Linked DNA regions of Homo sapiens. The protein of the gene in region 1 interacts with the protein of each later gene in a pairwise test. Each region holds a gene or a part of one and is shown in the gene's direction. Other genes may lie near its edges.

Evidence for each region.
Region 2: the proteins of GSN (region 1) and KCTD17 interact in binary tests that used the Homo sapiens proteins (3 or more experiments, as listed by UniProt).
Region 3: the proteins of GSN (region 1) and MAOB interact in binary tests that used the Homo sapiens proteins (3 or more experiments, as listed by UniProt).
Region 4: the proteins of GSN (region 1) and SEMA4G interact in binary tests that used the Homo sapiens proteins (3 or more experiments, as listed by UniProt).
Region 5: the proteins of GSN (region 1) and TMT1A interact in binary tests that used the Homo sapiens proteins (3 or more experiments, as listed by UniProt).
Region 6: the proteins of GSN (region 1) and IQGAP3 interact in binary tests that used the Homo sapiens proteins (3 or more experiments, as listed by UniProt).
Region 7: the proteins of GSN (region 1) and AUNIP interact in binary tests that used the Homo sapiens proteins (3 or more experiments, as listed by UniProt).

Annotation. Positions count from the first base shown.
Region 1 is NC_000009.12:121,323,662-121,327,161, forward strand, and holds part of GSN (gelsolin), read left to right. Parts: intron 1-892; coding exon 893-983; intron 984-2,850; coding exon 2,851-3,021; intron 3,022-3,500. UniProt on the Homo sapiens protein: Calcium-regulated, actin-modulating protein that binds to the plus (or barbed) ends of actin monomers or filaments, preventing monomer exchange (end-blocking or capping).
Region 2 is NC_000022.11:37,058,242-37,061,741, forward strand, and holds part of KCTD17 (BTB/POZ domain-containing protein KCTD17), read left to right. Parts: intron 1-1,071; coding exon 1,072-1,197; intron 1,198-2,581; coding exon 2,582-2,681; intron 2,682-2,862; coding exon 2,863-2,934; coding exon of another isoform or gene 2,935-3,297; coding exon 3,298-3,388; coding exon of another isoform or gene 3,389-3,500. UniProt on the Homo sapiens protein: Substrate-adapter for CUL3-RING ubiquitin ligase complexes which mediates the ubiquitination and subsequent proteasomal degradation of TCHP, a protein involved in ciliogenesis down-regulation.
Region 3 is NC_000023.11:43,798,951-43,802,450, reverse strand, and holds part of MAOB (amine oxidase [flavin-containing] B), read left to right. Parts: intron 1-187; coding exon 188-279; intron 280-3,500.
Region 4 is NC_000010.11:100,979,504-100,982,809, forward strand, and holds part of SEMA4G (semaphorin-4G isoform 1 precursor), read left to right. Parts: intron 1-344; coding exon 345-489; intron 490-618; coding exon 619-841; intron 842-1,074; coding exon 1,075-1,190; intron 1,191-1,318; coding exon 1,319-1,494; intron 1,495-1,664; coding exon 1,665-1,726; intron 1,727-1,872; exon of another isoform or gene 1,873-1,959; coding exon of another isoform or gene 1,960-2,040; intron 2,041-3,306. UniProt on the Homo sapiens protein: Cell surface receptor for PLXNB2. May play a role in axon guidance.
Region 5 is NC_000012.12:50,928,015-50,930,511, forward strand, and holds part of TMT1A (thiol S-methyltransferase TMT1A precursor), read left to right. Parts: intron 1-1,899; coding exon 1,900-2,136; 3' UTR 2,137-2,497. UniProt on the Homo sapiens protein: Thiol S-methyltransferase that catalyzes the transfer of a methyl group from S-adenosyl-L-methionine to alkyl and phenolic thiol-containing acceptor substrates.
Region 6 is NC_000001.11:156,538,066-156,541,565, reverse strand, and holds part of IQGAP3 (ras GTPase-activating-like protein IQGAP3), read left to right. Parts: intron 1-649; coding exon 650-858; intron 859-1,575; coding exon 1,576-1,728; intron 1,729-2,028; coding exon 2,029-2,192; intron 2,193-2,532; coding exon 2,533-2,757; intron 2,758-3,500.
Region 7 is NC_000001.11:25,849,458-25,852,957, reverse strand, and holds part of AUNIP (aurora kinase A- and ninein-interacting protein), read left to right. Parts: intron 1-3,500. UniProt on the Homo sapiens protein: DNA-binding protein that accumulates at DNA double-strand breaks (DSBs) following DNA damage and promotes DNA resection and homologous recombination.

The DNA of each region.
Region 1 (3,500 bases):
GCCCGGCCCCCACTACTGTTCTTTTCCTGATCTAGGATCTAACCCAGGATCCCACATGGCATTTACTCATCATGTCTCCAAAGTCTCTGAATCTATGGCAGTTGCCCGGTCTTTCCTTTTTTTCATGCCCTTAACACTTTTAAAGGGTACTAGTCAGTTATTTTGTAGAATGTCTCTCAATTTGACAACCCCAGACATTTAAAAACAGCTTAATTTTTTTTTTGACTAGATAACACATTCACCTGGTACAAAATGTGTGAGAAGACTGTTTTAAAAATTAGCTGCATCAGCGCATTAATAGGTCAGATTTTGTTTGCTTATACGACGACATATGTTGGTTATGGAAAACTTAGACAATATGCAAAGAGGTGGGATAGAAAGGCAAAATCCCCCTAAATCTTCCCTCTAAGAGCAATCACCATGGACCTTTTTGGTGAACATCTGTGCAGACCTCTCTGCACGTGTTCATGGGAGGCTTAATCACTGACATCTTTTCCCACAAATAGGCTCTCGTAACACTTGCTATTCTGCGACCTGCTTTTCCGCCCAGAGAAATGTCCTGGCCACTTTTCTGCATCTCAGATTTGAGTCTCAGAGCATCTTCTCTGTGGCTGTTCAGCATGGGATGACCCAGCCAGTCTCCTGTGGGACACATTTAGCATAAGGAAATCCATGCGTTGCACTAAGATCTCTGTAAGCGGGCAAGATGCTAGGCTGAGAGTGGAAGTGTTGGTGTGGTTCCTGGCTCTCGTTGTTCTGAAAGAGTCCCCTTCCCTCTCTATCTGTTTCATTACTGGTAACAGGGAGATGTGTAGGTTTCTCAGACTCAGGGCAAGGGAGAGGCTCAGGGCTCTGTGTGCACCCTGATGCTGAATCTCACTTCCCCTTCCAGGCAGGGTGCCCAGTCTACCCAGGATGAGGTCGCTGCATCTGCCATCCTGACTGCTCAGCTGGATGAGGAGCTGGGAGGTACCCCTGTCCAGGTGAGCCCAGCCCACCGCCTCTCTGGGCTGCAGCCTGAGCCTTGTCCTTCTCTTCACTCATCTGTCTGACTCTCATCCATCCATTCGTTTGTCCATCTGTCTGTCTGTCCATCCATCCATCCATCCATCCATCCATCCATCCATCCATCCATGGAACAGGTATTTATTTAGGGCTTCCATGTGTTCCACACTGCATCTGTAGCCATGGACACACAGACACACTGTCCCTGCCCTAGTGGACTTTGCTGTCTTGGGTGGTAGTAGACATTCAACACACAGGCACACCAATGGCTATGACAGATGCAGTGAGTGAAATTGACAAGACCTTGGGAGAGAGACATGGGAGAGGCCATGTGGCTGAGCACGGATGTGGAACCAGCATGCTTGGGTTTGAATCCTGTCCTCACCTCTGGGCAACGTTGGGCAAGTCACTTAGCCTCTCTGTGCCTCTGTGTCCTCAAAATAGGGGTAATAACAGTACCATCCCACAAGATTGCTGTGAGGATTAAGAGTTAACATTTGTAAGCATTTAGAATCATGCCTGCCATATAAGAAGTGCCCCCTTATACATATGTGTTAAGTACAAGGAGGTAAATCCTAGGTAGGATCCTATTGGATTAGAAAAGCCCACCCCTGTCCCAGGAGGGGACTGTTCAACTGGGACCTGATGCACGTGTAGGAGTTGCCCAGGCAGAGTGAAGGAAAGCACATTGTGGGTAAAGGGTGGTACACATGCAAAGGCCCTGAGGTGGGAGGGGGCATTGGGTGTTAAAGCAAGGGGAAAATGCCATGATTTGAGGCTAGAGAGGTGCTCAGAGGGGCCAGACCACCAGAGGCCATAGTGACGATGTTGACCTTGATGCTGAGAACAACAGGAAGTTGCTGAATGATAAGTCTGAGGTGTAGGGATTTCTGGTTTAAAAAGTCACTCTGGCCAGGCGCTGGAGGGCAGCAGAGCTGGTTTGTGGAAATATAGGGGAAGCGGACAACAACTGTGCTTCCTCCGTCCTACGGTGGGAGTGGGCAGGGCTCTAGATTGGCATCGGGGGTTCGTGCCCTGACCTTTGACTATGATAGACTGGGTGCTGGGCACTAAATGAGATGATGACCATCTTAGCTCAGTGCATCCTGACAACAGCCTTGGGAGTAGCATCCTTGGCTGCATTTTTCAGAGGAGGAACTCAAGAGGTTGAGACACGTGCCCAAGTTCTCACCATCAGGGTGGAGTTGGGGTCTAAGCCCTAACTCAGCGGTGGTGGGTCGTGGTGGGAAGCGACTGCCATATGCCTGACGTACATGTGAGGTTTTCTTCTGGACATAGTTAGCCGGGGCCACGGTAAGGTGCCGCACACAGGGCAGGAGCAGATGTGAGGGTGTACATCTTCCCTGCCTCACTCCCACCACCAAGCCCCTGACTGCTGCCCGCATCTGGGGTGCACTGGCTCTGCAGGAGGGGGTTTTCTGGATCTAGAATGCTCTGTTCTTACCACTCCACCAGCAGTCATGCCCAGGCCTGACGTCAGCATTCTGGAAGAATGTCCACCAGCAATCCCTGTGCTTCTATTTAAGGGAACATTTGCAAACACAGGCTCTCCTGGTTCTTGGACCAGGCTGAGGATCAGGAAGGCATGTCGTCATGGAGATGGAGAGCAGCCCAGCAGCAGTGCCCTGGGGACCTCAGACAATAGCACTGTCTCCACCCTTCCTGGAATTCTGGTGTCCCTGCCTGTGTGTTGTCGGGTCACATTCCATGCCACACACAGACACAAGCATGATGGCTTCGTCTGGAGGGATGGGCCCAGTGCGACATAGAAGGACTGAAGCCTGCCCCCAAGGTCCCTGACTTGCTCTCCTGTCTCCCTGCCAGAGCCGTGTGGTCCAAGGCAAGGAGCCCGCCCACCTCATGAGCCTGTTTGGTGGGAAGCCCATGATCATCTACAAGGGCGGCACCTCCCGCGAGGGCGGGCAGACAGCCCCTGCCAGCACCCGCCTCTTCCAGGTCCGCGCCAACAGCGCTGGAGCCACCCGGGCTGTTGAGGTAATTTCCAGGTCCTGGAACACAGAAGGGATTGGCCTCCCTGAAACCTCCCAGCTCAATGACCAGATCTCCAGGCACAGGAACGGGGGCAGGGGATGGTGAATGACGGGGTAAGAAGCAGCTTTTTGTATTTTCCTGCCGTGGCCACAGGGTTGTCTGTCTTAGACTCCCCCCTGTTTCAAGGATACCCAGTGTCCCTTGCACACTTTGCACAGTGGACAGCTCACTACCTACCATTCTGTACAATCAGCATGCCATTCCTGATTACGTTCCAGTTGCCTACTATCCCTTTCACGGAGGAAGGCACAGATCTGGACTTGATTCCCAGGATGGTCTGAGCAGCCTAGAGGGGAATGGGACTCTCACCTCCTTTGTTCTGGGCATTCAACTTCTGTTAATGCAGCCCTGATTTTTAGAATCATGTTGGCTAGTCACAGTGCATTAGTGACTCATGGGAGTCAACCAAGGCCATCAGGGTC
Region 2 (3,500 bases), on another chromosome or scaffold:
GTCGGAGCCCCCAGGATGGCCTGGAGGGATGGAAGAATGGGCCTAGTGCAGAGCCAGAGGCCTGGCTTCACCTCTAGGCCTTGCCACAGACATGCCTGCCACCTTGGGCAAGTTACATCTCCTGTGCGGGACCCAGTTCCCTCATCGGTGAAGTGGGCTAACAGTACCTCCTCTGTAGGACTCTTGTGAGATTAGAAGGGCCATCAGTAAAGCTTACAGCCCTCCGTAGGACTCCCTATGTTGGCATTAGTGTCATGCAAATCATTAGAAATCCATATTGAAGTCTGCAACACTCAGAGAGGACTTGGGATCCCCGATGCCATTCCCTGCTCCACCCCTTCCTAGCTGTGAGGCCTTCAGCAGGCCTGAGATTCTCTTCAGGGTCCCTGAGAGCTGAATGAGACTCATCACCTGGAAGAACTTTCTTATTTCTTAGCCAGAAGGGCTCTGTGGGCGTGGTTATTCTAGGGACCCTGGAACAAGGGCAGGGCCACTCTGAGAGCCTCTGGGTGTCTTTGGCAATTGCACAGGCTCTCAGAGGCTGAGCAAGCAGGCCAGGGACCATTGGTCATTTGCCCTTTGGTCTCAGGAGTGGACCACCTGTCGTCCCACCTCTGCTTCCAGGAGTGAAGGGAATATTCTGTGGGGCTCCACCTTGCCAATGCCACCCTGCAACCTTGTCCTGGGGCTGTGTCAGCCACATCTGGAATGGGGGACAGCCGCCCTTTAGAGGCCTCCGCCTGCATTTAGAAAAGGGCCCCCTGGCTCTGGGGCTAGGCTGGAGGTGGTGGTGGGGACAGCGGTAATGCTGCCACCCTCCACCAGGGATCGGGCCAGCCAAGCCAGGCGGAGGGGCTGGTCCTGGGGCACAGACCACAGGCACAGGTTGCAAGGGGGAAGACTCCACCTTCCTGCCCAGAGGTGCCCTCTACAAACCCAGGAGTGGGCCCGACAAGCCGCAAGATTAGGACCTGAGCTGGTATCTTGATTTGAGTGCCGAGGTCTGTCGTATCCTGCCCCACGGCCCCCAACACCAACCTGCATTTTTCTCCCCATGCTCCGCCCCTCTAGCTGGTGAACATCGGCTCCTCCTACAACTACGGCAGCGAGGACCAGGCAGAGTTCCTGTGTGTGGTGTCCAAGGAGCTCCACAGCACCCCAAACGGGCTGAGCTCAGAGTCCAGCCGCAAAACCAAGGTGAGCCCACCCGCCTCAGCCTGTGTCCGGAGAAGTCTCCTGTCTCCCTCCACCCTCCCCGCCTGTCCCGCCCCTGCGCCTGCACCATCCCTCCACCTCTCTCCCGCCACCGCCCATGCACAACCCCATGCTCACAGCCACCGCCATCCATCCCATGCCACCTGCCGTTACCCAGGCCCAGGCTGGGAGCAGTGAAATGAGAGCATCCCCAGGGTGCAGCCGGCGTGGACTCAGAGGCTACATGAAGGGGGCCGCTTAGTGGCCACTGGGCACTGTGGCATGGACTAGGGGTCAGGGCACAGTGTGGCACTCTCTGTGTGACTTAGGACAGGGCTTGTCCTCTCCCAGCACCTTTGCTGCACTCTCTGAAGTGAGAGGGGAGGATCACATACTCTTTGTAGTGCCTTGGAGCCTGGAACTTCTGGGATCCCAAATGGCCGTTTATTCCCCAGGGACAGGTGCATGTCCCCAGCTGGCCTGAGCCAGGATGAGGAAGCCACCGCTGTAAATCCTGCCCCTTTCCCAGGCCCCCTCCTTGGCTGCTCTGCAGGATAGGGGCAGCCTGGTGGCTGCCAGTCCTGTGTGTCCGCCTGGCCTGTTGAGGCAGCCTCCTGAGAGCACCCTGGCAGCATCCACTGTACCACTGTGGGGAGAGGGCTGAGCGGGGGTCCTGCCATCCTGGACCCAGTGCTGTGGGAAGTCCCAAGGGCCTTCGCAGAGCCACAGAGCAGGCGTGAACCAGGCTGGGAAGAAGGCAGGCTGCTCCTCCTGGGGCCCAACCCCACACAGTGGAGGCTTACCTCTGGCTTCCTGTCTATCTGTCTGCCTCCCTGTCCTGCTGTGACGCACCCTGCCTGCCCACCCACCCCCACCACTGCCAGGGCTGACGCTGCCCTGCAAGGGTGCAGAGCGAGACTGCTCCTTCTGCCTCTTTGGGCCAAAGCCCCTGGACCTGGGGTGTCAGAGACTGGCTGGCATCCCAGATCTGGGTGGTGTCTGCCCTGGGGCTTCCTTGGCCACATTTCTACTGAGGAGCAGTCTTTCCAAACAAGGCCTTCCCAGGCACCCCTCAGGGATACCCCAGTCCCACACCCTCCCTGTTCTGCTTCATCCCCTCCCTCCAGCCTCGCTCTATGTAACAGCAGCCAGGCTGACCCCGGAGCATGCCCACAGCATCCCATCCTCAGCTGCTTTCCCCAGGCCCTCCCCAAGCTGCCCAGGGGACCGGAGAAGATGCCCCCAGCTTCTGTGGCTGGAGCCCTCCCCTCTCCTGAGGTCCCTTTCACCTTGCCTGAGACCGGGTCTTTGGGGATAGCCAGCAGGCCCTGGCCCCTCTGTTAGTGTCTCCACTCTTTCTTCCCTGGGTCCGCCGGCTGGTTCACAGAGCACGGAGGAGCAGCTGGAGGAGCAGCAGCAGCAGGAGGAGGAGGTGGAGGAGGTGGAGGTGGAACAGGTGCAGGTGGAGGCAGATGCACAGGAGAAAGGTGCAGCCAACCCCCAGGAGGATGATTGCTAAGCAAAGCCGGAGCCTCCCGCCCACTCCTTGCTGGAGCCAGCTGCAGAACCGGGGGCCCCGGGGCTGCTGGGGGGGCACCAGGGTTAGCTCAGCCACTTGCCTGGCGCCTCACCCGCATAACCATCCCTTCTCTCACTTTCTCTTTGCAGCCCAGTCATCTCAGGATCCCGCTAACCTTTTCTCCCTCCCACCACTGCCTCCTCCTCCGCTTCCCGCTGGAGGTCCTGCCTCATCTTCATCCACCTCTTCTTCCTCCTGGATCTCATCTGCACCCTGCCTCTTCCCTCTCTGCCCCTGTCCGGGTTTTCTCTCTGCCTGCTCACGCCTCCATCCCGGGTCTGCCCTGGTCCCAGCCTCCCGTGCCCTCCACCCAGGCCCCCTGGCCCTGCATCCCAGAGCGTCCTGCCTGCCGCCTCCTGCGCCCCTTCTGGTACCTCCTGCCTCCCAGCCTGGGGAGGAGGGGCGCAGCTGCACCTCCTCTGTGCCCACTAACCCTGCCGGGCACCTCTGAGACTGGGCCCTGGCTGCAGGCCCTGCCCCCCCTCCTCTCCTCCCGGCCTCCTCCTCACGTTTCCTCCTTGCAGGTTCCCGTCCGCACCCTCTCAGACCTGAGGCTGAGCTTGCAGTGAGGGCTTCTCCTCGGCCCCTCGCCCGCCCCCAGAGCTGCCATCCCTGGTTTGTAGCTTGGCGGTGCTGGAGGGAGGGGTGGAGCGAGGAGGGTGCTCATCTCTTGATCCTTGGACTTGAGCCGAGCTTTCGGCTGATTATCTCCACCCACCAAAGTTTC
Region 3 (3,500 bases), on another chromosome or scaffold:
TAGACAGCATTGATTATGCAGTAAAAGCAATATTGGATGAATTTGGAAAACTTAACATTTTTCCTCTTTAAGGTAGAGTTTTTAATACTATTTGAATAGTTATTTAAAGTGGAAAATTACAAAAATGAATAAAATAAAAGAGAAAATTACATTTGTCTTTCTCCTTCGAATCCTCATCTGAATGTAGATTCCGAGTGATGCCCCATGGAAGGCTCCCCTTGCAGAAGAGTGGGACAACATGACAATGAAGGAGCTACTGGACAAGCTCTGCTGGACTGAGTAAGTCTTGCCATTAGGCACAGGCATTTACTGTGACCACCTTTTAGGTTTATTTAGCAATACCGTTCAACAAGTATGGGACAAGTAGCTGCTTTGTGTCTAAAACCACACCACCAGCCAGTGGCATGCTGAAAACCATTGGAATTGGCTCCTACCCTGAAGATATCTGTACATACAACTTACTTCTTTGGAGTAGTTTTGTATCACAAAGGTGGTATTACCCTGTGAAGTCCTCAGAACAGACCAGAAGGTACCACTTTCTTTATCTGAAACAGCTTAAAGACCATCAGCTTAAAGCTCTCATTTATTAAGTTGTTGATATAGGACAATTTTTGTATTCTTCACTGGTGGTCAAATGTGGAGATGGTTAGCATGTGCATTTGCCACACCTTGTGTGAAGTAGTGCAATTCTTCAAGGACTTAAAGAGGAACCTCTAAAGCCTTTGTGTAGATAGGTCACAACTACAGGGGAAACATGTGTGACTGGACTGGCTGTTCCCCTTTAGTGAAAAAACAAGTACCTATGAGTTAAGCATTAAATTCTTGTTGGCAGAACTGGGAACTGTAGAGAAATTGTGAAGGCTTGTATAGACAGACCACATGGAGAGGCCACACTGCTCTTGGACAGCAGGGAAAATGGAAAGGATTATGAGGGTTCCCATTCAAGCACGTGGTAAATTTGTGGTAAACAAAATAAGAGAAATGGAAGCCAAATTCAAGGAGACTGCCCTGTCTTGCTAAAGAGCATTAGTTGAGAATATGTTTGGCTCGGGGGTTAATGTCTTCATTTTTAGGCATTCATTCACTGCCAACTAAAAGTAAAAACAAGCTTTTAGAATATCTGAATCTTAAAAATGGAAATAATCAAAAGACATAAAATTCATATATTTTTCATATAAAAATTCAGCTTCTAATAATTTAGCTTTAAGAAAGTGAGGCAAAAGAAGAGAGAGGCACCAGCATGGCACATGTATACATATGTAACTAACCTGCACAATGTGCACATGTACCCTAAAACTTAAAGTATAATAATAAAAAAAAAAAAGAAGAGAGAGGCATACAGGGAGAGAAGGAGAGAGGGAGAGGGAGAAACAGTGAAAGAGGCAGATTCAAAGCATTATTTTTAAAAGGGAGGATCTGAAAGCCCAATAGTAGAAGATCGGCAGAATCAAGTATGGAACATCTAAAAAATTGAGTACTTGAGGGTTTTAAAAAATCGTGTTGTAGAGGAATATTTAATGACTGGAAAAAATAGTAATATTAAACACATAGAAAAGCAGGCTATTGTGGTATGGTATATGATCTCATTTCTAAAAACAACTATTTATATATGCACTGCAAAAGCAATGGACATCCATTGAAGTATTTTTAACGTTTAATATTACCATGCAAACATTTATTTTTAAAATGTTTAAAAACTTTACATCATTAAAAATTATTCTTTAAACATCATATTTCATGGTACCAGAATATTCCATGGGAAATGAATACGTAATGTATTTGTCCATTATCATCCTGTTGAACACATTGGTTACTTTCTGTTTTTTGTTATTATCATTATACAATACTCTATAATAAACATCTTTATGCCTCTCCTGTGTTTTCAACCTTTGAAAGCAACCAGTTCTGGAATAGTAAAATCCTTTTATGTCATGAAATCAATGCGTGTTATTAATTATATTCTTTTAAACATTTACCTAATGCTATCTAACACCTCTATGAGAATGTAGTTTGCAATATAATTTATTTTAATAGTAATAAAATTGTAGTATTTAGTTTTAAATTATATACTTTAGATTTTCAAAATATAATAAGTATGTAATTATCTGCATTTGTTTTATAACTCCTGTTATGAAAAGCTTTTAATAAATTCAGTTAGGTCTTCTCTCCTCAGAGAACTTTTAAGTTTCTTGGTGATAAAATCAATCATATGTTTTTGGGATCACAGGGACCCGACATTTTCTATCGTAGCCCTTGGCCTAGTCCTCCACTTAGTGAATATTCTAAGTTGTCATTTGACAAAATAAAGCATTCTGAGATACTAGGAGTATAAGAACACAAGACAATTTTCCAACTCTTCCCAAGCAAGATACACACAGTATTATTTCCTGGATTTAAATGAAGTAATCCCCAGAATATCCAACCTATTGTTGTTCAAACTAAAGCACAATCATACATTCCAAGACTAATGTTGATTATTCTTTCAGTTATTATCATTTACAAAGTGCACTTCACAAACATGAATTGTATTTTCAATGTGATCACAGCTATGTAAAAACATTTTTTAAAAGACCTATACTTAGAAAAAAATGCATCAAAATGAGACTAGTAATTATCTTCTGGAGGGGCAGAAATATGGAAGACACTCGTTCTCTCATCCTTTTATCTTATAAATTTTCCAAATTTTATATAATGTGTATGTATTTTTCATGTAGAAAAATATTATAACATTTATCTTTTAAAAAGTCAACAGGGCAAAAAATACGGAAATATTGCACTAACTTCCTTGACCTTCCATCCTTCAAATATTGTTCTTATTTCTTTTCTTACTGAAGCTCCTAGAGTAAATTCAAATAAAGGATTAGGAATGGACTGGCCCTTCAGAATTACTTTTAGATCTCCCTTTATTTCAAACCAGAATTATTTCTTTCCCACCAAATTGCCAACAATAACAACTAGAATTCCAGCAATATTTTTGTTAAATATTGGCTCTCCAGCTGGGCCAATGTTAGGTTTCAGTTATTTATTACTCCCTTTACTGTATGCCCCTCAATCCACCTAAAAAATAAGGAAGAAAAGAAATAGGATTTTAGGAAGCAACAAATAAAATACTACTTTTATTTTAAATTGACGTCTGGATATGTGTTTTAGTTAGATATTACAAATTGCCTCTGCAAGGAAGGCATGAGCTAGCAATTTCCATCCCTTCAATTATCCTGAGAAATCTTACAAAACTAACTGTAAGTCGCTTTAATGTATATATGACACCATTTCACAGGCTGTAATGATGGGGACTGTCATAGACGGGCTGTCAGGTTGTTACAGCTGCAAATAATGTCAATAATTGGTATGTGTGTTAGGCATGATTCTACAAACTTCTAGGGTCAAGATACAGTAAAGTAGAGAGATGCCCCTTGGTGAGTAGCTGCACTTCCAAGGCTGTCAGCTGACTAATTAGAAAACATTTTGAGGTATCAAAAGCACGAGTTTTGCGTCAAGTA
Region 4 (3,306 bases), on another chromosome or scaffold:
TCCCGAGTAGCTGGGACTATAGGCGTGTGCCACCACGCCTGGCTAATTTTTGTATTTTTAATAGAGATGGGGTTTCACTGTGTTGCCCAGGATGGTCTCGATCTCTTGACCTCGTGATCTGCTCGCCTCGGCCTCTCAAAGTGCTGGCAAAGTGAGAATTTTAAGCACATCAAGCTAGGCTAGAGCCAGAGAATGAATGCAGTGGTCCACTGACTCACAGGAGAGGCCCTGTGGGACTATAGCTGGGGTTGGCCAGGGTAACAGTGAGCTTCAGGCTGAGCACGAGTTGGGGGGCAGGCTTGACTCCATGTAACTCACCCCCCTTGCCCTATGTCCCATTCTAGGAAGACCCTGGAGGCCTCAGCCATCTGCCGCTATGACCTGGCAGAGATCCAGGCTGTCTTTGCAGGACCCTATATGGAATACCAGGATGGTTCCCGGCGCTGGGGTCGCTATGAGGGTGGGGTGCCTGAGCCCCGGCCTGGCTCGGTGAGTGCCCAGGCCTGGGGCCAGTGCTGAGTAGACAGAGCCCAGGGAAGGGTCAAAGGGTCTGGCCTTGTGGAGAGGGCAGGCAGGTGGTGGAGTCCCGAGGTTCACCACCTTCGTCCCCCACGCCAGTGTATCACAGATTCATTGCGCAGCCAAGGCTACAATTCATCCCAAGACTTGCCATCCCTGGTCCTGGACTTTGTAAAGTTGCACCCACTGATGGCTCGGCCCGTTGTGCCCACACGTGGACGGCCCCTGCTGCTCAAGCGCAACATACGCTACACACACCTTACAGGGACACCTGTCACCACGCCTGCTGGACCTACCTATGACCTGCTCTTTCTGGGCACAGGTGCTTCTGATCCCAATCCCTGATCCCTGTTGGCCCTGATCACTAATGCTTCTGAATCCATTAATTCCTGCCATGACTAGTCTGGAGTTCCCAGTGTCCTGAGGGTCCACTGCTCCTGGCTGAGTCCTTGTTCTGGACCTCAGGACTCCTGAGCTGTTCGTATTAGGCCTCTTGCAGGGTGCTGAGAGCAGATCCCATAGTTGGGGTCTAACTCTCTGCTCTTTCCATACCAGCTGATGGCTGGATCCACAAGGCCGTAGTCCTGGGCTCTGGGATGCACATTATTGAAGAGACACAAGTGTTCAGGGAGTCCCAGTCTGTGGAAAATCTAGTCATCTCTCTATTGCAGGTAGCCCTTCTCTGTGACCCTTAATATAGCCTTGCTGAAATAGGAAGAGGGAGTGGGGAGGTTGGGCAGAGGCTGTGTATCTGTATGAGTGGGGACGCTGCCGACCAACTGTCCTATCTGGCTCCCAGCACAGCCTCTATGTGGGGGCTCCTAGCGGAGTCATCCAGCTACCACTCTCCAGCTGCTCCCGCTACCGATCCTGCTATGACTGCATCTTGGCCCGAGACCCCTACTGTGGCTGGGACCCTGGCACCCATGCCTGCGCAGCAGCCACCACCATAGCCAACAGGTCCCAGGGAAGCAGGTGGGAAGTGGTGGGGGGTGACAGTCACATGTGGTCTGAGTGGAGGAGGAAGGCCTGATAGCTACTGGGGGAGTGCAGGGGCTAGTTATTAGTAACAGACCTATCTACCCTTTCACTGGGAAACTGAAACCCAGTTCCCCTTGTTCATAAAACCTGATCTTCTGTCCCAGGACAGCACTGATACAGGACATAGAGAGAGGAAATCGAGGCTGTGAGAGCAGCAGGGATACAGGTAAGTGACTCATATGAGTGTGGGTCTAGCTACGCAGACTGTCCTCTTTGCCATTTACTGCCATGTGTACGTATATGTTTGTATCTGAGTGGCTGTGGCTATGTACATTTGGTAAGGATGACTCAAACACAGAGCCTGGCACAGAGTAAGTGCTCAACAAACATTTACTGCCCAAATGAATTATAAACTAGGAAACATATTTAAGATGTGAAGTGTCTTGTCACTTCTGGAGCTTATAGCCAAGTAGTGGATGACAAGGGTTCAGGACGGTAATGGGTATTTCCCCAAGGAAGATCGGATGACTGAACTGATATCTGAAGAAAGAACAAAAGTTAATCATCACAGCTAAGATGTATTAAGTATTTACTGTGTGCCAGACACTGATCTAAATACTTCTATGCATGATGTCATCTACTGTCACAGCATTCTTATGAGAAAGGTGCCATTATTATTATCCCCATGAGGGACCTCTCTGAAGCCCAGGGAGTGTAAGTAAATTGCTCAAACTTATTCAGCTATTAAGAAACTGGACCAGAATTCAAACCTGGCTGAGTACAGTGGCTCACGCCTGTAATCCCAGCACTTCGGGAGGCTGAGGTAGGTGGATTGCTTGAGCTCAGGAATTGGAGACCAGCCTGGGCAACATGGCAAAACCCCATCTCTACAAAAAATACAAAAATTAGCCGGGTGTGGTGGCACATGTCTGTAATCCCAGCTACTTGGAAAGCTGAGGTGGGAGGATCACTTGAGCCTGGGAGGCAGAGGTTGCAGTGAGCCAAGATCACACCATTGCACTCCAGCCTGGATAACAGAGTGAGACCTCATCTCATCTCAAAAAAAAAAAAAAAGAAAGAAAAAAGAATTCAAACCTGACCCCAAGCAGTCTGATTTGACTTTGTGCTTCTGGTCACTATACTATGCTATCTCCCACAAGTTAGCCAGGCAAGCAGAGGACATGGGGTAATGGGGTGACATGCAAGCAGAGGGAGCAGCAGGCAGAGGGAGGCTGGCACATTTGAGTGACAGGAGAATAGGCTGGACAAGTGGGCAAAGGCCATGTTGAAGATTTTGGTCTTTATCCGAAAAGCAATAGGAAACCTCTGAAGAGTTTTAGGCTGGAGAGTGGCATGATCAGATTTGTGTTTTTAAAATACCTCTCATGAAGAATGGATTACATGGGGCCAGAGTGGGCCAGGAGTCATGGAAGGAGAGAAATCAACAGGTCTAAGATAGATGCCAGAAACAGAATCTTAGTGACAGTTAGATACAAACGTGAAGAAGGGCCGGGCACGGTGGCTCATGCCTATAATCCAGCACTTTGGGAGGCCAAGGCGAGTGGATCACTTGAGGTCAGGAGTTCGAGACAAGCCTGGCCAACATGGTGAAACCCTGTCTCTACTAAAAATACAAAAACTAGCTGGGCATGGTGGCATATGCCTGTAATCCCAGCTACTCAGGAGCCAGAGGCAAGATAATCGCGTGAACCAGGGAGGTGGAGGTTGCAGTGAGCTGAGATCACGTCACTGCACTCCAGCCTAGGCGACAGAATGAGACTCCGTCTCAAAAAAACAAAACAAAAC
Region 5 (2,497 bases), on another chromosome or scaffold:
GGGTTTCACCATGTTGGCCGGGCTGGTGTCCAACTTCTGGCCTCAAGTGATCCACCCACCTTGGCCTCCCAAAGTGGTGGGATTACAGGTGTGAGCCACCGCGCCCAGCCAAATGCAAATGCAAATATTCTTACCACTGTACCACAGTGCTTGTTATTGGGGTTTTCATCTTTCTGATTTCAACATTGCTATCACTCTTGCTGGCTCTTCTTCCTCTACCCATCTCCTACCACTGGGGTTCCTTTCTTGGTGACACAGGATTTTTGCTCCTTAGCTCAGCTAGGTCCAGGTTCTTGTCTCACATTCAGGAAGAAATAGGCACGTGAACATGGAAGAGTGAGTGGAGTAGAATTTATCAAGCGAAACAGAAAGCTCTCAGCAAAAAGAGGGGTCCTGAAAACAGGTTGCTGGTTGCCCCCTTCGCAACTGAAAAGCTGATGGAGCTGGATTCCCTGTTTGTAAAGGCATGAATTCCTGGTGGCTCCACCCCATTCCCCCAGCGTGCATGTGGGGCCTTAGTGGGCTGCAGGCATGTTTAGGCAAGCCCCTGTGCAAGTTCCCTTATCTGCACAAAACATCTCATGTAACCATTTGTGGGACTGGTCAGAAGTTCTTCCGGGACCCTTCCCTACTGTCTGCCTAAAGCAAGCTGGCTAACTCCTTTCATTGGTTCATTTCACTTATATACACTCCCCAGCAATCTCATATACCTCCACAGTTCTCAAATACCACATATATACAGATGTTTCCAAATCTAAACATCTATCCCAGGTCTCTCTTCTGACCCCAAACCTTCATATCCAGCCGTCTACTCAACAGTCTCCTGGATTGCTCAGAGGCACCTCTTAACATATGTAAACCAGAGGGCAACACTGACCTCCCCAAACCTGCCTCTCCTCCTTTATGCTGCCCTATCCTATGAAGATTTTTTTTAAAATCAGGGCCGGGCACGGTAGCTCACGCCTGTAATCCCAGCACTTTGGGAGGCCTAGACAGGAGGATCACTTGAGCTCAGGAGTTCGAGACCAGCCTGGGCAATGCGGCGAAACTCTGTCTCTATAAAAAAAAAAATTAGCTGGGTGTAGTGGTGTGCACCTGTTGTCCCAGCTACTTGGGGGGCTGAGGCAGTAGGATTGCTTGAGCCCAGGAGGCAGAGGTTGCAGTGAGCTGAGACTGTGCCACTGCATTCCATCCTGGGTGACAGAGCCAGGCCCTGTCTCAAGAAATAATAAATGAATAAATAAATCAGGAAATTCCAATTTTTCTATTCGTAACATAGGTCTTACACTGACCCATATAATTTGGGGAAACTCCATCACTAAACTGAATTCTCTCTCTAAACTCTGCCTGAGGAGCCAAGACTAGGATAACTAGAGGAGGCCAAGAAGAGTGGTGCAGTTACCACAATTTTGTGAGGTGACTGTCTGGTCCCTTGCTCCTTACTCCCCTCAGAGGTAGATATGTAGAAAACTTCTGAAGATGTCCCCACACATAACATGTAATAACATCTATTGTGCCTGTACTTGATCAACATTTATAAAACTCCTCAATGAAAGCAGCAGTTGCTAATTCCTACAAAGAGTAATTTACATTTAGCATCCACTGACTGAATAAAATACCTAATGACAAAATGTTACCTTGAATTCAGTAATGATTTTAGATGAATCAGAATTTTCATTAATCATATCACGTACATATTTGTGAAAATGGCACAAAAATTTAAAACATGGTTATTCAGTCTCAAGGGTGTGCTTAGTGTGGAGTGACCCTCCTGCTCAGAACTCTACGGTTCTCTCACAGGTTTGCAAGGCAGTGCCAGAGAACAATTTTCAAAAAATAAATTAAAAAAGCAGAAATGAAAAAATCCTTGAAATGTTTTTTTTTTTCTTTCTTTCTCAGGGAGGGGCTTTCTATTTCATGGAGCATGTGGCAGCTGAGTGTTCGACTTGGAATTACTTCTGGCAACAAGTCCTGGATCCTGCCTGGCACCTTCTGTTTGATGGGTGCAACCTGACCAGAGAGAGCTGGAAGGCCCTGGAGCGGGCCAGCTTCTCTAAGCTGAAGCTGCAGCACATCCAGGCCCCACTGTCCTGGGAGTTGGTGCGCCCTCATATCTATGGATATGCTGTGAAATAGTGTGAGCTGGCAGTTAAGAGCTGAATGGCTCAAAGAATTTAAAGCTTCAGTTTTACATTTAAAATGCTAAGTGGGAGAAGAGAAACCTTTTTTTTGGGGGGCGGTTTTTTTGGTTTGTTGTTGGTTTTTTTTTTTTTTTTGGCGGGAAGAAAGAGTTTTGCTCTTGTTGCCCAGGCTGGAGTGCAATGACGTGATCTCCGCTCACTGCAACCTCCACCTCGCGGGTTTAAGCGATTCTTCTGCCTCAGCCTCCCTAGTAGCTGGGATTACAGGTGCCCACCACCATGCCCAGCTAATTTGTATTTTTAGTTGAGACAGGGTTTCACTACGTTGGCCAGGCTGGTCTTGAACTCCTGATCTC
Region 6 (3,500 bases), on another chromosome or scaffold:
TCTGTCTCATAGTAAACATTCTATGTATTAGTTGTTTTGTTGTTATTTCCAATAAATTAGCTCAGAGGCTTCTTTCTTTTTTGCTCAAATGCCAATTCCAAAGGTGATTCAAGGAGAATCACCAGCTAGCTCTGACCTCCCCTAAATTATAAAGCCCACTGTCCATCCCGTCTACCTGTCCTTCCCGGTGTGTACAGACATTCCTGACAGAGGAGCACTGTGGGAGCAAGCAGGGCTGAGTGGTGGCTGGCAGGTAGGAGGAGGAGGAGGAGCAGGTTGGCCCAGCAGAAGTGAGTGGTAGATTGGGGTAGACTAGGGAGGTCTGGGAGGATAATCAGAGGGAGCTGTGGCTCTGGCTTTGGTGTCAGAGGTCCCTGGGATAGACCCAGGCTGGGGTGAATCAGAGGCATGGGAAGAGCAGCTATTATGTCATCTCCAGTTATAAGACAGGAAGCTCAGGGACAGGCCTGGCTAGAAGGCTACCCACTGCCCTCCAAGTGCAAGCAGAACCAGTTAGAAGAGGACTGGGGTTGGGGACCTGCTGATCCCAAGCAGAACGGGGACTGGGGTGGGCTGACTCGGGCAGGGGCTGGTGAGGAGGCCTCTGATGAGGCATGGCTAATCCTGATGCCTCCTCCCTTCCTCCCAGTGCATGCACCCCACCCTCCTCTCAGTGTGGTACGCAGATTTGCCCATCTCTTGAATCAAAGCCAGCAAGACTTCTTGGCTGAGGCAGAGCTGCTGAAGCTCCAGGAAGAGGTAGTTAGGAAGATCCGATCCAATCAGCAGCTGGAGCAGGACCTCAACATCATGGACATCAAGATTGGCCTGCTGGTGAAGAACCGGATCACTCTGCAGGTATGGGGCCCACCAGTCCTCCCCTCCCCGAGATCTGCCTGCCTCTGGAGATGTGATGCTGACCATTCTCTGCTTGCTAATCAATTTTTTTCAAAATGTTGTGGATTTTGTCACCTGACTCAGGTCCTTGTTCCAGTGGCCCTCTGCCATTCTAATAAATCATTTTGGGGGACCCATGACAGAGTAGAAAGAGCATGAAACCTAGAATCAGAATGCCTGGCTCTGCTGATTCCCAGGGATGGGGCTGTGGGTGCTCATTTCACTTCTAAGTCTGTTTTCTCATTAGCAAACTGAGAATAATGAGAATGTCCACCTCTCCAGGCCAAATATAGAGACAGATATGAAAGCTGTTTAAATCATAAATTACCATATAAATATGCAGTGACAGGGTAATAGTGATATAGTGATAGCTCCACCTCAAATGTGTGTAGCAGTCTAATAAGAAGAGATAGCAAAAGCCAAATAGACACAATTCCTCAGCCTGGCAAACCAGTTCTCTTTGGGGACTCACTCCCATGACAGGAGAGGAAACAGATGGAGTCTCAGGGCACTTGGAGGGGCCCTTCCTCACCCTAGAACTGCTTCTGTCCCCCAGCTTATGCCTGTTCCTTGAACAGCAGAAAGCCCTGGCTCTTCAAGGCACTGATTCTAGACCGTATGTTCTGTGCCCTGGGATGGCCTAGGCTAGTTGTATCACCCGCTCCTCCACCCCTGCAGGAAGTGGTCTCCCACTGCAAGAAGCTGACCAAGAGGAATAAGGAACAGCTGTCAGATATGATGGTTCTGGACAAGCAGAAGGGTTTAAAGTCGCTGAGCAAAGAGAAACGGCAGAAACTAGAAGCATACCAACACCTCTTCTACCTGCTCCAGGTTAGCAGAGGACTTTCCAAGGAGAAGTCTCTCCCGTCTCCTGAGGGTCTGAGACTTCAAGGCCTTCTTGTCTGTGCGTTTGGCACCATGCAAGGTGTCCTTTCCCATAATCTTAATTCCTTATCCCCAGGAAAGGAGACTACCTCTTCCCCTGTTTGTCTGGAATGTTACTAGCACCTGGAGAAAGTGTGGTAGTGCTTTCTCCATTCCAGATTTCCATCAGGGGAAAGCCTTTCCTTATCCTATCACTGGTCCTTGAAGTGCATGGTCAGCCATTCCTGTCTCCCCTCTTGCTTGCAGACTCAGCCCATCTACCTGGCCAAGCTGATCTTTCAGATGCCACAGAACAAAACCACCAAGTTCATGGAGGCAGTGATTTTCAGCCTGTACAACTATGCCTCCAGCCGCCGAGAGGCCTATCTCCTGCTCCAGCTGTTCAAGACAGCACTCCAGGAGGAAATCAAGTAGGCTCTCCAGACACAAAGGAATGGGGAGAGAATGGGTTAAGAGATCCCCCTGTTGGCTCCTTCACAAGGTGACAACTTGTTGAGGCCTAAGGGTAGAAATGGAATCAGAAGACCTCTTTTCTCTACCTCCTGTGGAGAAACCGTAAAACATCTGGGACAGCACAGTGGGAGGATATGGGCTGACATGCTAACACAAAGGATGAGAGAGATATCAAGACATTCCTTAAGAGCGGGGACACCAGGGCAGGCTTTGAGAGCCAAAATCTCAAAAAGGAAAAGCAACGGTATGTCCTACACAGAGGCAGAAGACTGGTTTCAATGACCTCTTAAACCACAGGTCAAAGGTGGAGCAGCCCCAGGACGTGGTGACAGGCAACCCAACAGTGGTGAGGCTGGTGGTGAGATTCTACCGTAATGGGCGGGGACAGAGTGCCCTGCAGGAGATTCTGGGCAAGGTTATCCAGGATGTGCTAGAAGACAAAGTGCTCAGCGTCCACACAGACCCTGTCCACCTCTATAAGAACTGGATCAACCAGACTGAGGCCCAGACAGGGCAGCGCAGGTGAGCACATGGGCAGAGGGAGGAGCTCTCTTTGATCAGCTGTGTCTTGATCAGCTGTGTCTTGGACCCTACTGGGGAAGCTTGGGTGTACTTTGAAGGTGGCATATAAATGGGCATGCTGATCTATGCAAATATGACACCAGCTTTGTAGGCATGAATAAGGTAGTCTTTTAGACCCCCTCTGATAATTAACATGAAACTGATGTAAATGACTTCAGACCTGGTGGGCTTAACATAAAATGAGTACAGATGAATATGCAAATGTGCTTAATTGCTATGTCAGTGCTTGCAAATGATGTGTCAAATTTGGTGGTAGTAGGGCCGGACATAGTGGCTCACGCCTGTAATCCCAGCACTTTGGGGGGCTCAAGGTGGGCAGATCACCTGAGGTCAGGAGTTTGAGACCAGCCTGGCCAACATGGTGAAACTCTATCTCTACTAAAAATGTAGGTCAGGCGTGGTGGCTCACGCCTGTAATCCCAGCACTTTGGGAGACCGAGGCAGGCGGATCACGAGGTCAGGAGATCGAGACTATCCTGGCTAACATGGTGAAACCCCATCTCTACTAAAAATACAAAAAATTAGCCGGGCGTGGTGGCAGGCACCTGTAGTCCTAGCTACTCGGGAGGCTGAAGCAGGAGAATGTCATGAATCTGGGAGGCAGAGCTTGCAGTGAGCCGAGATCGTGCCACTGCACTCCAGGCTGGGCGACAGAGCGAGACTCTGTCTCAAAAATAAAAAAT
Region 7 (3,500 bases), on another chromosome or scaffold:
CAGAAGAAAAAGTAGAAAATCCACAAATAGGTTGAAATTAAACAGCACATTTCTAAATAACCAAGAGTCAAAGAAGAAATCAAAAGGAAAATTATAATAGAAAGTACTTTGAGATAAATGAAAACAAAAATATAATGCACCAAGATTTATGGGATGCAACTAACACTATGCTTAGAGGGATATGTATAGCTGTAAATGCTTTTATTAAAAAGAATCTCGGCCAGGCGCAGTGGCTCACACCTGTAATCCCAACAGTTTGGGAGGCTGAGGTGGGTGGATCACCCGAGGTCAGGAGTTTAAGACCAACCTGGCCAACACGGCGAAACCCTGTCTCTACTAAAAATACCAAAATTAGCTGTGCGTGGTGGCAGGCGCCTGTAATCCCAGCTACTCAGGAGGCTGAGGCAGGAGAACTGCTTGAACCCAGGAGGCGGAGGTTGCAGTGAACTCCAGCCTGGGCAACAAGAGTGAAACTCCTGTCTCAAAAAAAAAAACAACAAAAAAAAAAACCTTAAATAATCTAATCTTCTACCTTAAGAAACTAGAAAAAGAAGAGCAATCTAAACCCATAGTGACCAGAAGGAAGGAAATAATACAATTTAGAGTGAAAATAAATAGTAAAGAAAAACAATCAACATCAAAAGTTGGTTCTTTGCAAAGATCAACAAACTCAACACACCTTTAGCTAGACTGATCAAGAATAAAAGAGAGCACAGTGGCTCACACCTATAATCCCAGCATTTTAGGAGGCTGAGGTGGGAGGATCCCCTGAACCCAGGAGTTCAAGACCAGCCTGGGCAACATAGGGAGACCCTATCTCTACCAAAAAATACAAAAATTAGCCTGATGTGGTGGTACATGCCTGTAGTTCCAGCTACTCAGGAGGCTGAGGTGTAAGGATCACTGAACCCAGGGAGGTTGAGGCTGCACTGAGCGGTGATTGAGCCACTGCACTCCAGCCTGGGTAAGAGAGTGACACCCTGTCTCAATCAGTCAGTCAGCAAGAGGCCAGGTGAGGTGGCTGAAAAAACCCTATCTCTACTAAAAATACAGAAATTAGCCAGTTATGTTGGTGTGTGCCTGTAGTCCCAGCTACTCGGGAGGCTGAGGCAGGAGAATCACTTGAACCCGGGAGACAGGTTGCAGTGAGCCGAGATTGTGCCACTGCATTCCAGCCTGGGCGACAGAGTGAGACTGTCTAAAAAAGAAAATAAAGAGATAAAAATAATTAGAATACTATAAACAACTGTATGCTAACACATTTAGATAACTTAGATGAAATGGACAAATTCCTAGGAAGTCACAGACTACCAAACTTGCCTCAAGAAGAAATAGATAAAAATCAACTGACTGTAAATGTAAGGGTTTACTTCTGGACTTTCAGTTCAATTCCTTTGGTCTATAGACCTATAACGAAGAGATTGAATTAGTAATTTTAAAACTTCCTGCAAAGAAAAGTCCAGGTCCAGATAGTTTCTCTGGTGAATTCTACCAAACATTTAAAGAATTATACCAATCCTTCAGACTCTCTCAAAAAAATAGAATAGAAGAGGAGGGAACACTTTCCAACTCATTTTGAGGCCAGTATTACTCTGATACTAAAACTAGACCAAGATATCACAAGAAAAGGAAATTATGGTCTGGTATCCTTTATGAATACAGATACAAAAATACTCAACAAAATACAAGCAAAACAAATTTAGCAACACATAAAAAGGATTATAAATCATGACCAAGAGGAATTTATCTTAGGAATGCAAGGTTGGTTTAAATTTGAAAACCAATTAATATACCATACTAATAGCATAAAAGACAAAAACCACATAATCATGTCAATAGACACAGAAAAAGCATTTTGACTGACATCATTTTGTGATTAAAACACTCAACAGACCAGGAATAAAAGGGAATTTTCTCAGCCTCACAAAGGGCATCTATGAAAACCCAGTTAACATCATACTTAATGGAAGAAGACTGAATGTTTCCACTCCTAAATCAGCAACAAGACAAAGATCTTGCCACTCTGTTTACCATTGCACTAGAGATTTTATGCAGGGAAATTTAGCAAGAAAAAGAAATAAAAGATACCCAGATTAAAAAGGAAGAAGTAAAATTATCTGTTTGCAGAAAATATGATCTTATGTGTAGAAAATCCTAAGGAATCCACTTAAAAAAATTAGAAAAAATGAGTTCAGCAGTGTGACAGGATACAAAAATCAATTGTACTTCCGTATGGTAGGATTTTATCCAAAAAATGAAACTAAGGAAATAATTTCATTTACAATAGAATCAAATAGAATAAAATACTTAGGCATAAATTTAACAAAACAGTGCAAGACATACACTGGAAACTATAAAACTCATTGAAAGAAATTAAAAATGTAAATAATGGAAAGACATTACATGTTCATTGATCAGAAGACTTAAGATAGGAATATGCCCCAATTGATCTACAGAATCAGTGCAGTCCTTATCAACATCTCAGTTGTCCTTTTTGCAGATACTGACAGTCTGATCCAGAAATTCATGACATCCGAGGGATCTAGAAAAGCCAAAACAAGCTTGAAGAGTAACAAAGTTGGAGGAATCACATGTACTGATTTCAAAATTACTATACAGTTACAGTACTTAAGATGGTTTGATACTGTCATAAAGGTAGACACATTATAGATCAAAGGAATTGAAAGTCCAGAAGTAAACCCTTGTATTTATGGTCAGTTGTTTTGTTGTTGTTGTTGTTGTTGTTTTTAGAATCAGGGTCTCAATTTGTTACCCAGACTGGAGTGCTATGATCACACCCAGAGTGCTGATGTGATCATAGCTTTATTGAGATATGATTCATATACCATAAAATTTGCCCATTTAAGTATGTACCCCCGAGAGATAGGAAAACGTATGTCTGCACAAAAACTTGCACACAAATGTTCTTAGCAGCGTTTCTCATAATAGCCAAAAAGTGGAAACAATCCAAGTAGTCATCAACTGATGAACATCAACTGGTAAACAAAATGGTATATCTAGGGTTGAGTGCAGTGGCTCACGCCTGTAATCCCAGCACTTTGGGAGGCTGAGATGGGGCAGATCACTTGAGGTCAGGAGTTCAAGACCAGCCTGGCCAATATGATGAAACCCCGTCTCTACTAAAAAAATACAAAACTTAGCCAGGCATGGTGGCAGGCACCTGTAATTCCAGCTGCTCAGGAGACTGAGGCAGAAGAATTGCTTGAACCCAGGAGGCAGAGGTTGCAGTGAGCCAAGATTGCGTAGCTGCACTCCAGCCTAGGTGACAGAATAAGACCCTGTCTCAAACAAACAAACAAAATAACACAAAATGGTATATCTATATAATGGAATATTATTTGGCAATAAAAAAGAGTGAAGTATTGATACATGCTACAACATGGATGGACCTCCAAGCATTAGGCTCAGTGAAAGAAGCCAGTCACAAAAGACCAGATATTGTATGACACATAAAAGGCCCAGAATAGGCAAATCTGTAG